Homo sapiens: one gene and its partner. The protein of the gene in region 1 purifies or fractionates together with the protein of each later gene. This does not show direct contact. Each region holds a gene or a part of one and is shown on either strand. Other genes may lie near its edges. The genes, in order: GNPNAT1 and MSRB2.

The links.
Region 2: the proteins of GNPNAT1 (region 1) and MSRB2 purify together in Homo sapiens (affinity purification with mass spectrometry; one large-scale study listed by BioGRID and IntAct). This does not show direct contact.

What each region holds. Positions count from the first base shown.
Region 1 is NC_000014.9:52,789,255-52,793,169, reverse strand, and holds the start of GNPNAT1 (glucosamine 6-phosphate N-acetyltransferase), read left to right. Parts: upstream 1-1,562; 5' UTR 1,563-1,742; exon of another isoform or gene 1,743-2,212; intron 2,213-3,915.
Region 2 is NC_000010.11:23,105,562-23,109,376, forward strand, and holds part of MSRB2 (methionine-R-sulfoxide reductase B2, mitochondrial precursor), read left to right. Parts: intron 1-3,815. UniProt on the Homo sapiens protein: Methionine-sulfoxide reductase that specifically reduces methionine (R)-sulfoxide back to methionine.

The DNA of each region.
Region 1 (3,915 bases):
CATGCCTGCCTAATTTTCAGTATTTTTTTTTGTAGAGACAGGTTTTTACCATGTTGCACAGACTGGTCTCAAACTCCTGGGCTCAAGAGATCCACTTGCTTAGGCCTCCCAAAATGTTGGAATTACAGGTGTGAGCCACTACGCCCAGCCATGAGTGTTTATTTTATTTATGCCTTACATATTCTTTTTTTTTTTTTTTTTTTTTTTAGAGACAGGGTCTTGCTCTATTGTCCAGGCTGGATTCAACCTTGTGGGCTCAAGTGATCCTCCTGCCTCAGCCTCTGGAGTAGCTGGGACTACGGATGCATACCACCACATTCTGCTCATGCCCTATATATTCTTTTGTATGTATGGGTGTAAAAACAGAGATAAAAACAGAGATATGGATGCCATCAACTCACTGATGTTTGAAGTTCTGAGAAAGCATAAATCAGTAAAGGAGTTAACTGAAATTTAAATCTCACAAATGAGCAAAAAATATGATTTCTGGTATATGATCTATGGGGTTCTTTGAATACTATTGCTTAAGAATAAAATACTTTGCGATTTCAATAAATTGAAAATTATGGTACAAGGCAAGGAAGGGGAGCTACTAGCTATGAGACTTTTGTAAATTATGTAACATCTCTGAACCTCTGTTTCCTCATCTGTTAAAATAGGGACAAAGTGCTACTTAGGTAAGACACTTCAGAAATGGGGCTCTGAAAAAAGTCACTTTTCTTCTCCTAACGAAAGGTTTCTAAACCTCAGCACTCCAGACATTTCAGGCCAGGTAATTCTTTGTTGTGCGGCGCTGTCCTGCGCACTGTAAGGCGTGAAGCAGTATTCCCGGCCTCTACTCACCTGTGCCCTCCACCATCTGTAGATTCCAATGACATCTCACCCCAGATGAGAGGCTGAAAATGATTCATACATTGCCAAATGTCTCCTGGGAGGCAAAACTGTTGCAGTGGAGAACCGCTGTCCTAACCCCATGTTCATCCAATAAAGGGTTTGAGGGACTGAGAAATGAAACAATAGTCCCGAAGGAGTAGAATGCAGTGGCCCCAACTCCTAGTTTCATGAAGGCAGGAACTGTGACTCAGAGGCCTGGGGATGCGGAGCTCTGAACTGCCAGCTGGTAGGAAAAGTCCTAATTAATGGATTGAATCATGAAGGGAGGGCAACAAGGAACAAATGGAGAGGGCCAGTGGCCGAGCCTTCGGTCTCAGGATCAAAGAGGCCCACACTGGTCACCACTTACGCTGCTGGGCTGACTGCTAGGTAGACGTATCTGCAGATAAACCGAGACAATGACGCGGTGGGAAAGGCCTTGGGGAGCGAGGAGGAGGAGCCGGGAGAGGCCAGCTTTGGTCCGGCGGCCACCGCCCCAGGCGCCGCGACTCGAGCCTCAGGCCCCGCCCCTCGCCCTCCTGGTCCCGCCCCCGCTCTCCGAGCCCCGCCCCTCGCCCTCCTGGTCCCGCCCCCGCTCTCCGGGCCCCGCCCCTCGCTCTCCGGGCCTGGGCGGGTGGCGCCTTGGCCTCCGCCTCCGCTCGCCTGCGCGCGGCCCTGCGTGAGGGGGCAGAGGCGAGGTGGAGGCGTTGGCGCTGCCACGTCTGGGCCGCGGTTCCCAACTGTGGCGCGGGCGGTGGAGGAGGAGGTGGGGCTGGCGCTGAAGCCGGATCCGGATCCGGTGCTGTGCACACTGGTGGGGGAGAGTCCGACGCGCCTGGCTAGGAGCGCCGACCGCAGGGCCTCTACGGGTGAGGAGGGACCGGGGCCGGGGCGCGAGAGCAGGACCGTGTGTCCTGGGGGCTGGGGCGGGCCTGCCCTCAGGTTTATCTAACAGGTGTGTCTGGTGCCCCGGCCAGGCCCCCGGGGGTGTTGTGTGGAGGAGCTGGGCGTTAATCCTCGCCAGCTGGGTGCACATGGTGTGGAGCGCGGTTCCCAGGAAGTTGAACGCACGCGCGCCTGGAGCAGAGGTTAAGGATGATGGCCAGCGGTCCGGCCATACGCTGGTCTTGGCCTGGCAGGGCTGGAACTGGGACTGGGGTCGGAACTTCGCTCCCCAGACTTTGGCGTGGGAAATGAGACAGTTGGTCGCGCTCTCTGCAGCCATCGGTTTTGAATGGGCACGAACGTCCCAGGCCCCTTCTCTTCTCCCATTCCCGGGCGCATCCCACGGTGGTCGGAGCCATTGAGGCAGCTGCTCCGAAGACCACCTCCGCACCGAGTAGGTCGGCGCTTTCCCCAGGGTACAGAGGGACATTCTTTGTCTCTTTTTCCTAGGCTCCTACCCCTAGAAATACCGAGTACTGTACTGTGATTTCTGTTGCGGGAGCTGATGTTTATGTAAGCCAAACTAATTTAAAATTTTCATACAAAATTGAACGGGCGATTATAGGATTCGTTTTGTTAGGATAATCCCTCATGAACGAATCCTAGAATGGATCTTAAGAAATTAATTTAGGCAGGATTTGCTAAATAGGGGAGAGAGCGCTAGCTGTATGGTATGATGATGTAAAGATTGGGGTCTGTTGAGGATGGTAATCGAGCTCAAGATGCGAAAACGAGGATTCTAGCCCCAAGTCACTTACTTGCTGTGTTACCTAAGGGGCAAGTCTTGGGAGTTCCAGGTGCTCCAGCTTCCTCATCGGTAGACTGGGAATAACGCCTAGATTGTAAAGGTCAAACTATCAGAAAATACTTTTGAACATTCATGCAGTTACACAATTTAATAAATATGGCCAGGTGTGTTAAAAATCTTTAACGGAATAGATTCAGAATGGATTCTTGTTATCGAAATTGTTATAAAATGAATATAAAGGAATCCGAAGTCCGCCCCTCCCCCATTCACCTGTACTTAGAAGGTTCCCCAGGAGCTCTTGAGAAATACATAGGCTGGTTTAGATTTGGCCTTAGATTGTATTTTTTAAAATTTGTAGATCGACTTTTAAAATCTTCATCTCCGGTGTCTATTACTTGTTGCTCTCCGTTGGTTGCTTCTAGCAGCAGCCTCTCTCCCCATTCGTATTCCAACCTGATACAGAGGCTCAGACGCCAAATAGTTGAAGTTTTGTTTAAAAAATATTCAATTGAGTGAAAAAATATTCAACTGATGTGATGACTAGTAAAAATGAATTTGGTGTATGCTTTCCGCGATATTGTGGCAGTTTGGGAATTTTTTTTTTTTTTTTTTTTTTTGTCCTTCTGGATTTTCTGAAATGTGACCTACAGGTAAGTCTTATTCGTTATTCATTCACTAGGCATTATTGGGCTAGGGTTAGGCTTAAACGGGTCTTCTAAACGCCTGCTAATTTAGCAGTTAATCAGAAAAGGTTCTGAGGAATACTTAAGGAGGATTAGTGTTTAAAGTTCATCTAAAAACTTTAAAGAACCTAATGATATGATGAGATTCCGCTTCACACAACTGTGCAATTTTATTCGCAGAAATTTCCTAGTTTTGCAATATCTGGGCACCTGAAGATGCTAAAAGATTATTTATATAAAATTACTTATTTAATTATGTTCTAAACCCCCTTGGAACCAGGTTTCAAGTCATATCTTGCTTCACTTTGCCCAGTACCTTAGTTGGGCACCAGCAGAATTTTACGGTTTGAGGACAGAGTGAGCTAAAGTGGGCCTTCAGTATGGCTCTGTTTTGTAGAATAGCTCATAAAAAAATTTTTGATGTTAATTTCTGATTGCCTGGTTAATAGATTCTTATTTCAATCTGTAATGCTTTGTTTAATGTATTTTGACTAGTCTGATTCCCATTTTCCAAATGTAGGTTCTAAGTGCTGCTTATGACTTAATTTTTAACCCTTGTACAACAGTAAGATAGGGAATTTATCTACTCTAGTGCATCTTCAGTGTAATGGTTAAGAGCAGAGTCTGAAGTCATACTACCTAGCAGGACTGGCTACGTAATCTGTG
Region 2 (3,815 bases), on another chromosome or scaffold:
TAGTGCCGCGTTGCTTAACAAGTGGTCTGTCTTAGACCCAAATATAGCTACTGGAATGTAGCTTTTTTGAATTGAACTTTGTTATTAGATATTTTTACTAGTGAAGCAGATCCCACAGAGTGGACCCCAGCCCTGTGGCTTCAAACATAGTAGAGTATGAATGTTTTTTCCTTTGTCAGCACCTGCAAAACTCATGTCACTACCCACATGCACTGCCATTGTAATCATGGTCTCACCCTCAGTTTTTCCAATGCTAAAGTCATCAGAAGGGCCAGCACATTCCAATAAAGTCCCCTGAAATGCTGGTATTTTTGAAAACTTCCTGTAGGCGGGATTTTACTAAAGCCCTTGTTGGGAAAGAGACTACATTAGCCATTTGTGTAGACTGCACAAGGGAACCACATGATACTCTGTGAGCAGTTGTATGTATTCCCAGAGTATTCTAAGCCAACCCTAATTCTCAGGTACAGAGCCAGGCAGGGCTTGGTACATAGACAGACCCTAGAGATGAGCTGCCAGATGTTTAGGAAAATAAATCTGTGGGCTTCTCAAACAGATGGTGCAATATACTCTCTGCATTTGGCCATTTGACAAAATGAGCATCATTCATTATTTTAACTAATGTTATAAATCCCTTTCCATGGATCCATTTCCACGTTTAACTTTTTAGAGTATTGCAGAAATGTAAGCCTTCATTAGCTTTGTTCACCTAAGAGAAGAGAAATAAAACATCGAAGGCTTCTCTTTGGTGACTCTAAATTAAAATTCCCTCCCGCATGTTTTTTCTTGGGCAACGGTAATGTGCTAGCACTCTGCTAGACCAACGAATAAATTTACAGGATGGCTGAGCAATAACTGAAAGTCAAGTATCAATAGAAGGGAGGTTTTGTGCAGGTCATTCTCTGTCTACTCTCCAGATCCACTCTCCGCGGGCTCCCCTGCTCTGAGCTCTAGGAAGAGTGAGCAGCTCCCTTTCCCCCAGCTATTGATTCAGTTTAGCCAGTGGGAGACAACAGTGAGATCAAAAGGTGGGATGGAGAAATCGCTAGAGCCCAGCGTTCTCTCTGTGGGGCTGCAGGATGGCAGTGGCTGTGTTCCTGTACTGCAGGTGGCCCCTCTTGTAGGCAGCCCTCCCCTGCAGGTGCAGCCTCACCAGGTTCTGGCCACTCCCTCTTCCTTTGTCCCACAGGCCTAGTGGAGGCCATGGCTTCTCAGAGTCATTAGCCCAGGGATGCGTTGCCCTCACTTGTGGATTTCCATTGGCCCCGTCTGCACCTTTGTAAACAGTCCTGTGTGAGGTTATCTGCAGTCATCCCTCTTGAGTGTGTCATCTGTTTCCAGCAGGTGCGTTGTATTGACAAGATGGAATGGTGAACTGCCATTGGTCCAGCAGACCTTGCAATCCCAGGGGAATCTTGAACATCATTCTCTCTCTGACCCTGGCCCCTCCCTGTGCAGCCAGGCATTTCAATTCTCTCTTCTAAGTATTCTTGAATCTCTTCTCTTTCTTTTATTTCCACTGCTCTGCCTGAGCAGGAGCACACTCCAGGCCTGCATGTGTGATGGAGGTCGGATTGCCCTCTGCCTCTGGTGGCATCTTGCCCCATTCCAGCTCATTCTTTACCTGAATGTCAAGCGATCTTTCTAAAAACCAACTCCAATCAGGCGTACACCCAGTTCACAAGTTTCCAGTAGCTTCAAATTTCCAGTAGGACACAGTTTAAGCTGTTTGTCGTGATCTAACCAACCCCATCTGGCCTGGTCTCACCTGCCTTCCGGCATCATCTCTCTCCATCCTCCTCTTTGCCCTCTTCTTTCATGTGGGCCTTGACCAAGGTATTCTGCCTGCCAGAAATACTCTTCCATTTCCTCATTCAATTAACTCTTACTCTTCAAAAGTCAGCTTAGTGTTGGCATTTTTCTATAATAAACAACCATCAGTTGTGCAATTTAGAATAATAATAAAAGGTTAAGAAATAAAAAGACTTCCTCCCATCTCAGATAATATCTGATACAGTCAGCCTTTGTGGAAACTCCCCCCTTCGTAGTGAAGGGTACAGCGCTACCCGAACTCCATGCCATCTCTATCATAGCTGTCACCACATGGTATAAATTGTCAGCTCACGTGTGTCTTCCTCCCACTTAGGGAGCAAATTCTTTGAGTGCAGAAACTGTTTTGCTGCCCACCTCTGCAACACTAGCACCCAGCTCAGCCTGGGTTTATATTAGATTATCATGTCAATACTAGAAATGAGATAGAAGCTGAGTTTAACCCTAAATAAGTTACAGGACTTGTATAAAATTGGAGAGGGAGGGAAACATCAGGAAGCTAGGCAAGGAGAGAGTGGGTAGATGTCATTTCAGAAACTATGTTGGCTGAGTATTCCTTTTCATTGATTTTTTTTTTTTTTTTCTTGAGATGGGGTTTTGCTCTTGTTGCCCAGGCTAGAGTGCAATGGTGCAATCTTGACCCACTGCAACCTCTACCTCCTGGGTTCAAGCGATTCTGCCTCAGCCTCCCGAGTAGCTGGGATTACAGGTGCCTGCCACTACACCCGGCTAATATTTTGATTTTTAGTAGAGATGGGGTTTCACCATGTTGGCCAGGCTGGTCTTGAATTCCTGACCTCAGGTGATCCACCCGCCTTGGCCTCCCAAAGTGCTGGGATTACAGGCATGAGCCACCGCACCTGGCCTTCACTGATGTTTTAATTTTTATTTTGCTTACTGTGATAGCAGTTATCTATCACTTCCTCTGTCCAGCTGCCCCCCTGCAATAATGAAATTATGTTTTGAGTCTTTCCAGGCTGTCTGGATCCTATGAAAAGGCTTTTCTAGATCAGCCTTAGGACTGGCAGTCCTGTTTTGCATGCATTCATCTTCAGCCCAGGTGGGAAGGATGGGAAACTTCCTCTTTTTTTTTTTTTTTTTTGAGATGGAGTCTGGCTCTGTCGCCCAGGCTGGAGTGCAGTGGCACAATCTCGGCTCACTGCAACCTCTGCCTCCCAGGTTCAAGCAATTCTTCTGCCTCAGCCTCCTGAATAGCTGGGATTACAGGCGTGCTCCACCATGCCTGGCATTTTTTTGCATTTTTAGTAGAGATGGGGTTTCATCATGTTGGCCAGGCTGGTCTTGAACTCCTGACTTCAGGTAATCCACCTGTCTCGGCCCCCCAAAGTGCTGGGATTACAGGCATGAGCCACCACACCTGGCCAACTTCCTCTTCTTCACAGCTGCTAACTAGTGCCAGTGTTGGAAGCAGGCATTTGAGGGGACCGGCCATAAAGGACCAGCTCACTACTGTTTGGATTTCTGCAGCTAAGTTTAGGGTTTTAAAGAAGGAAAACATCCAAGTGTACCCAGATGGTAGGCTCAGTAGGTTAATTTGAAATTGTCTTTTATACAGCTCACTGCAAATGTGCTGTTAATACTACCACAGGGAATTTGGATGTTTAAACTGTGAATTTTTTGAGTTGGGAAGCCTGGAGGGATCTGAAGATTTCCTGAGTCAGCTTTGTCACTTGGTGAGCTGTTCTGTGCTCTGGCTTTCCTCTGGCCCATAGGAGGGGACAGTGCCTGCCGCCAGGCCCTGTGATAGCGGATCTTCATGGTCAGCTTGTGCAAGGGTTGTTTTTTATTTAATTTTCTTTGACAGGGGAGATGACAAAAGAAATTGGGCAAAAATGGTCTTTAAAAAAAAGTCATCAGCCGGGTGCAGTGGCTCATGCCTGTAGTCCCAGCATTTTGAGAGGCCAAGACATGCAGATCACTTGAGGTCAGGAGTTCGAGACCAGCCTGGCTAACACGGTGAAACC